2 linked regions of the Homo sapiens genome follow. The protein of the gene in region 2 interacts with the protein of the main gene of each other region in a biochemical or structural test. Each region holds a gene or a part of one and is shown on either strand. Other genes may lie near its edges.

Region 1 (3,914 bases), on a different chromosome or scaffold from region 2:
GAGACATACTTTTAACAAAATTCTTAGTTTTTACTGTTCCCAGCCCAAAGGTTTCAAGCATGTATTTTTTAATGTAAAAACCATTTTGCCTAGAAACCACCAGAATTTTACTTCATAAGCATTACTGTGTTAAAATGTCTACTTCCGAACTTCCTACCTTCACCATGTGCTCCCTTAGAATGTATGTGGAGAGACGCGCTGGTGACAGGCTGAGATGGCTGGGCATACTGCGAGGGCAATGGAGGAGGAGGGGGAGTGGCCTGGATGGGTTCATAGCGTTTCTCGCCAAATGATCTATCCACACCATCAGCTTCAGGAGGCTTTCCCCTGTTAACAAATGAAGAAAATGCCAACACCTGAAAATGGACTCACATTTACAAAACAAGTTCTCATTTCTCCATGTATCTCTAAGTTAAAAAAAAAAACTAGAAATTTCACAATTTATTCTCATGAGTATGGGTAGCTACTCTACCAAAATATAAAAACAGATTCGACCATTCATCGGCACAAGAAATGTCCAGACACACAAAAACTTTAAGAATATTAGTAAAACATCCAGAAGATGGCAACCAAAGGCAGGTGAAATTTTGGGTATAGTTTAATTGTTATTTACAAAAGATAGTAATGTTGACAGATTTAAGAAAGTCTTGCAAATATTCTGAAAACATATCATGGCACAAATTTTCCTGAGACCCACTTTTTTTGTTTTTGAGACAGGGTCTCATTCTGTCGCCCAGACTGGAGTGCAGTGGCGCGATCTCAGTTTACCACAACCTCTGCCTCCCAGGCTCAAGTGATTCTTCTGCCTCAGCCTCCCGAGTAGCTGGGATTACAGATGCCAGCCACCACGCCTGGCTAATTTTTGTACTTTTAGTAGAGATGGCGTTTCACCACGTTGTCCAGGCTGGTCTTGAACTCCTGACCTCAAGTGAGCCGCCTGCCTCTGCTTCTTAAAAGTGCTGGGATTACAGGCATGAGCCACCGCACCCGGCCCTAGACCCACTTCTGATTTTGTATCTGGCATCTGGCATACTCGGAGCACCATAAAAACAGATGTCACAGACTAGGGGTTGGCAAACTTTTTCACTGAAACACCAGAGAGTAAATGTTTGTGGTCTTTTGGCCCATACAGTCTTTGTTAGAACTATTCAAATTATGCGGTTATAGCCTTGAAGCAGCCACAGACAATGGGCATATCTGCGTTTCAGTAAAACTAAAAAAACTGGAGCTTTTACTTTAAAATTTCCCCTTGAGTTACCAGGTCCATTTTTTGGTTAAATGACTGCTAGAGCAGCAGATCCTGCTTTATTTTACAAGGTTCATTTAAGTCAAATTGTGCCATGTATGTTTATTTTTTCAGATTGCCAATTGTTAATATGTAACACAAAATTCACACAAATCTTTTTAAAAGACCCATAATTGCAACATTGCCATCTAAACCTTACTGCTGAATGCCAAAGCTGCACTAGCTTTATGTGCACCAACAATAACATATACATTTGGAATACTCCTGGTCATTTTCATAAATTTTCATTGAAGAAGTCTTATGATTGGCTTTTTTATCTTGCTTTCATGAATTTAGACTAAGCCCTTGATGATGACATTAAAATCTGAAAGTGCACATAATGCCAGTGACACAGTGAGGGACACCTTATGGAACAGCCTCACATTAATTGCCAGTCTTACCACTTGACGTTCCTTTTCAAGTAGTCATAGCTAGTGTAAGAGCCAAGAAATCTAGGTGATGGCAAAGCAAGCGCAATAGAAAAATGAAAGAAAATGGTCAATCTAACTAAGTAAATTTGCAGCAAATGGAACTCAAATGTCATTTAAAAATATCAACCAACATCCACCATTTCACCATAATTTGGTCTATAAAGGAACATATCACTAACTCTCATTTGGCCAAGGAAATTGAAGATAAATAAAACACAATCACTTAGTTATGTCCCGTCTGCTGGCCCATCCTTCATGTACTTTAACTGTTACTGCAGTGAAAAGCAATGTGTTTGAACTTTGCTCCTTCTCCACCTCTGTTGCAGCTGCTAATAGTGAGCAAAGAAATTTATCAAATCAAAGAGTGGTGATCAAGGATAATTAGCAGGTTCTGAATAAGTGGGAGTGACATGTCCCATTAAAAAAAAAAAAAAAAAGGCTGGGCAAAGAAATTCTGCAAGTGAAGACACAGGAAAAAGTAACACAACAGAAGAGCTACATTGAGCCCCTGGGAGGGGAATGGTAAATGGAGAGATAGAAATATGCCTGGCTTGAAACCTGGCCAGGCTTCACATGTTCCTTTCTAGCAAGACCTCCTCCATCTCCAATCGTAAGCTGGGCCCTGTGGTGGTGGAGTCTTACTGGTGAAGCTGCATGCTTGATGCTCAGGCTCTCTCTCATCTAATGATGTCTCACAAACACAAAAACAACTGAACATCAGTCTCTCACATTTAGTTCTTTAAAAGCTACAAACCACCATCATTTATTGAGACCTGGAAGTCTCACATAGTGAGTTGAGTCCTGAAAGGTAGATTTGATAACAAAAAATCCCTGGTTGTCCTGAAGAAGTTGACTCAATCTCTGGACTGAGACATGTGCACAGCCCTGGAGGGACACTGCTCTTCTTGCACTGTTTTAGAATCCTGGAAACTTCTAATTTACTTTGGAGGTGAATGTCTAAGCTACTGTCTCCTAACCTTTCCAGTTCTAATCCAGCTCTATGGAACTGTTAGACTGGGTAATATCTGCTTGCTTCCTGGGGCATCTGTCCTGTGCTAACAAAGATTATTTTCCATATCTAATTCTCACCATTTCTGAGGTGTGTTTTTAAGTGAAGCATAAGCACACATCATCTGAAGGAAGAAAATTTTGCTACTCCTGTATTTACTGAAAGAAAGAAATGCCTGAAGGCAGTCTTATTTAGTGACAAACAGTAAATGGTTTTGAAATGCAGGACAGAATCCTATATTTTAAGCTATTTTCCAGTTGATGAAGTTGTACTCATTGGACAAGAGTATGAAAAAGCATTACAAGGGAAACTTACAGAAACAACTACCCTCTTAGTTATCTTCCATGACCCTTATTCTCCTTTCCATTTCTCTAACCATTAAATACCTATATGGGAAAATGCAGCACAATTATAAAGAGTTTCAATTTCACACTACAAAGGAAAAAAAAGTATACTGGTATCCAGCCCAAACTATACTTTTCTCTCTCACAGCAGCAGGGAGTAAAATCAAACTGAGTTCTGAGTAAATTCACAAAGACAGATGTCATCTGTTTCACAATATATCCCTGTGAAAACAATGACCAGGTAATACAGGTTCCTTCCAGAGCTGTGTTAATGAAAAGAAGGGTGGTGGATGCACCTAGTATACCATGCCCTGTTTTGAGCTTCATTCACTCAACAATTACTGAGCCCCTACTGCATGCAAGGCAATGTTCTACACCCTAAAGTTATACATCACAAATAAGCTAAGTCTTCTTTCTAGAAAAACAAATTAACACAGAAAGCAAACATGCATTTTGATTGATTCCCTGGCAAAACAACTTACTTTTTAGACCTAAATATACTCCTTTTTTTTTTTGAGATGAGTCTGGCTCTGTCGCCCAGACTGGAGTGCAGTGGCGCGATCTCGGCTCATTGCAAGCTCCGCCTCCCGGGTTCATGCCATTCTCCTGCCTCAGCCTCCAGAGTAGCTGGGACTACAGGCACCTGCCACCATGCCCAGGTAATTTTTTGTATTTTTAGTAGAGACAGGGTTTCACCATATTAGCCAGGATGGTCTCGATCTCCTGACCTCATGATCCACCCACCTCGGCCTCCCAAAGTGCTGGGAGTACAGGCGTGAGCCACTGCGCCCAGCCTTTTTTTTTTTTTTTTTTTTTGAGACAGAGTCTCACTCTGTTGCCCAAGC
Region 2 (3,914 bases):
TTAAATTACAAAACAGAAACCACAAAGAAGGAAGAGGAAAAACCCCAGGACTTCCAAGGGTGAAGCTGTCCCCTCCTCCCTGCCACCCTCCCAGGCTCATTAGTGTCCTTGGAAGGGGCAGAGGACTCAGAGGGGATCAGTCTCCAGGGGCCCTGGGCTGAAGCGGGTGAGGCAGAGAGTCCTGAGGCCACAGAGCTGGGCAACCTGAGCCGCCTCTCTGGCCCCCTCCCCCACCACTGCCCAAACCTGTTTACAGCACCTTCGCCCCTCCCCTCTAAACCCGTCCATCCACTCTGCACTTCCCAGGCAGGTGGGTGGGCAAGGCCTCAGCCATACTCCTGGGCGCGGGTTTCGGTGAGCAAGGCACAGTCCCAGAGGTGATATCAAGGCCTACCCGGAACAGAGGAGATGCAGGCAGACAGAGTGGGGAAAATGTAAATGGGGACAGTGGCCAACGCCGATGCAGGCAGATCCCAAAGTCAGGGTTAAGCTATCCTGGCCAGCAGAAGCCAGCTCCCCACTCCACCACCACACCCTGTCACTTCCGTCCCTCCCCAATATCCAGAGGAGGGTGGACTCTGTTCTTGCTAGCAGGAGGCGGCCTTGGGAAGTTGTCCGAGTGGGCCAGAGAGGCTGAAGGCTGCTGCCTTCCTGCCTGGCTCAGTCTCTGCCCAGTCCCCAGTCCCCAGCAGCCAGTGGCCCGTGGCAGGGCCCTCCTGGGGTCACAGCCTGCGCTGAGCTCAGTCCAGGGAAGAACAAAGCAGAGAGGAACAGAGTGGAGCCGTGGCACCTTACACGTAGTTGCTGGCAGCAGCAGAGCGGGCAGCAGAATACTTGGCGGAGTAAGGCTTGTCTGTGCGGGGTGGACAGTTGCAGCAAAGCAGCCCCCCGCCAAGGAGCAGCAGGCCGGAGGCGGCCCAGCCGACGTAGAGCGAGGCACCCATCTCCCGCTTCTGCCCGGAGGCCACCAGCGGATTGTAGAAGTCTTGGATGATGTTGTGGGCCGTCCAGGACACCGGCACTATCACCATAAGGCCGGCCAACAGGAACACCACGCCCGCCACGATCATGGTCTTGGCCTTGGCGCTTTCATCCTCCAGGCAGTTGGTACACTTGCCCCCCACCACGGACAGCAGCACGCCCAGAGCAGCCACGATGATGCTGATGATGACGAGGGCGCGGGCCGCCTGCAGGTCCTGCGGCAGTGCCAGCAGCGAGTCGTACACCTTGCACTGCATCTGGCCGGTGCTCTGCACCACGCAGTTCATCCATAGGCCCTCCCAGATGGTCTGCGAGGTGACAATGTTGCTGCCGATGAAGGCCGTCACGCGCCACATGGGCAGCGCGCAGCACAGCATGACGGCCAGCCAGCCCAGGACGGCCAGCGCGATGCCCATTACCTGTAGCCCCATGGAGGCCATTGTTCAGCGTCCACGGGAGTTGAGGACCTGGAAGGCTGAGGGGATCCGGCTGTGGGGGCCGTAGGATTCCAAGCGCTGGGGACGGACTTAACGTTCGCAGAGTGCACCTTTGCACCGTGAGTCAGGAGATAAAGCCAGTCCTGATGCGCAAGCCAGCAAGTGTGAGCAGACCAGTTCCTTCCAGCCGACAGCTGCCAGGGCACTCTCTCTCGGGGACAGGTTGAGCAGTTATATGGCTCTGGCAGAGGGGCGGGGGCAGAGGGAGGGGTTTTTGTCACTGGGGCCTCCTCCTGACCAGTTTCTCTGGATTCCTGAGCCCAGGCCAACAAAGGCACTTTTGAGGCCCCAGCCCCGGGTCCCTGAGTCACTATCCAGTCTCAGAAGAAACTACTCTCTCCCCTTCCTCAAAGCCCATGCTGAGGTCACCCGGGAGACAGACACTGAATCACAGCCCAGGGACAGCTGGATGTTCACAGGTTAAGGCCAGGGGGCAACCAGACCCAGCCAGGTTTGGGAGCCTGAAGACCAGGGTCCCCACAGGCCAGTGCCCCCTCATTCCAGGCTTAGGTGGGAGGACAGGGTGGGGACCCTGAGGGAGAGAATTTGAGAATGAAGTCTTGGAAACGTCCACGAGAAACCCCACCTTGATTATTGTCATTTCTTGTCCTTACCAGTTTCATCACTGGCAGTTTCACGACTGTTGTGAGTATGATCACTCATGCATCTGGCCTCACCAGCAGTCTTTGCGGCATTGGCCGGATAAAGTTACGTGTAGGGGAGTGAGGAGCCGGGAGGCCAGGACTCCGGGGTACATCACCCACTCTCACCCATCCTTATCACCCAGCTTCTCTGCTTGGCTAGAAGAGGGGCCTTGGACATGATGCACCTTCAGCCAAAAAGAGACAGAAGCCTGTCCCCTCTCCACCTCCATGGAAGTTTAGGCTGGTGGGCTCTGTTCCTGCCGGGATCCAGCCTGCTTGCCCAGAACTGGGTGGGGCCAGTCACCAACGACAAACATGAACTAGATCCTGGAGACATCATCACCCCAGTAAATGGGTGTTTACCCTGTGGAGACATACAAAGCCTTCCAATAAAGCCAGAGTGGGTGCAAAGTCCCATGAGATTTCAAAGGGAAGGGGAACTCTTCCAGGGTGGAGGTGGTGGTGCTGAGGGAGCTTGACTGCAAAGGGGTGCTGTGTGGCACAACTCCAGGGGGCGCCGGATTCTTGGAGTATGCTACAGAAGGCATCGTGAACAGGTCCCCCAGAAAAGTTTTGCAAGGCAGTGGGACAGGCTGAAGGAGGACGTTCTGGTAGACGGTGGGCCAGGCTGGACAAATGCAGCTCATTCTGGGATGACAGCCCTCAGGAGAGATGTGCAAGGCAGCGAGGCTAGTGAAGGAGGACATTCAGGCAGAGAGAACAAGGGCAGAGGTGGCAAGGTGGGGAAAGGCAGCTCGTTCTGGGAACAGCCAGGAATCCAGTTTGACCAGAGACTGGGCTGGGGAGGGAGGGACCAAAGTAAAAGGGTCAGAAATTTCTGCCTGGAATGTCACCAAGCCCTGGAAGATAGAGGGAGGGTGGAGGGTCTAGGATCAGGAAGAGCTTGGTTCAGGGCAGATGACTGAGGGGACCTCTGGGAAGGGGTCATCGTGGGGGTGATTGAGAGTGTCTAGGGCTCATCCCAGCCGCACCGAGGGAGCTCCTCCTCACCCGCCGTGTGGTCATTTTGCATCTCTCTTCCCAACCATGCTGGGAGCTCTGCAGGGGCCAGGGCTCCAGTGTGTCCCTGAGCCGCCGCCATTGTCCAGCACTGGTGGCTGTGTGTCCAGTTCTGACCCAGAAGGATGCATAGTCCTTGAGCTTCCTGAGGGAAAGTCTTCAAGAGTGCCATGGTTTGGGTTAAAGCAATCAGTGAGTACCCATGGGAGGTATTTGAGATGGATCTGTTGACCGGCTAATGAAGCACAGGGCAGGCTGGGACAATCTAGCATGGTCCACCTGTGTTACAGACGGGAAGTTGAGGCCTGGTATTGTGGTTAACTCTATACACATCCGTCTTCCCTGCTAGCCTGGGGCTCCTAGAAGACAGGAACAATGCCTTCTGCAACCTCAGTGCCCAGCATCTGGCTTGATACATCACAGATGCTCAAGAAATGTGAGGAGTGGTTGCTGCGGCTCATGCCTATAATCCCAGCACTTTGGGAGGCCAGGATGGGAGGATCGCTTAAGGCCAGGAGTTTGAGGCTGCAGTGAACTATAATCGCACCATTTCACTCCAGCCACGGGCAACAGAGCAAGACTCTGTCTCAAAAGAAAAGAAAAAGAAATGTTTGGGCCGGGTGCAGTGGCTCACACCTGTAATCCCAGTACTTTCGGAGGCCAAGATGGGCAGATCACGAGGTCAGGAGTTAGGCCAACATGGTGAAACCCCATCTCTACTAAAAAATACAAAAATTAGCTGGGTGTGATGGCGCACGCCTGTAATCACAGC

The links.
Region 1: the proteins of CLDN4 (region 2) and TJP1 form a complex in vitro, tested with the Homo sapiens proteins (2 studies listed by BioGRID and IntAct, with this or other methods).

The regions. Positions count from the first base shown.
Region 1 is NC_000015.10:29,710,674-29,714,587, forward strand, and holds part of TJP1 (tight junction protein 1), read right to left. Parts: intron 1,738-3,914; coding exon of another isoform or gene 1,687-1,737; intron 328-1,686; coding exon 158-327; intron 1-157. UniProt on the Homo sapiens protein: TJP1, TJP2, and TJP3 are closely related scaffolding proteins that link tight junction (TJ) transmembrane proteins such as claudins, junctional adhesion molecules, and occludin to the actin cytoskeleton.
Region 2 is NC_000007.14:73,828,709-73,832,622, reverse strand, and holds the start of CLDN4 (claudin-4), read right to left. Parts: upstream 1,628-3,914; 5' UTR 1,422-1,627; coding exon 792-1,421; 3' UTR 1-791. UniProt on the Homo sapiens protein: Can associate with other claudins to regulate tight junction structural and functional strand dynamics.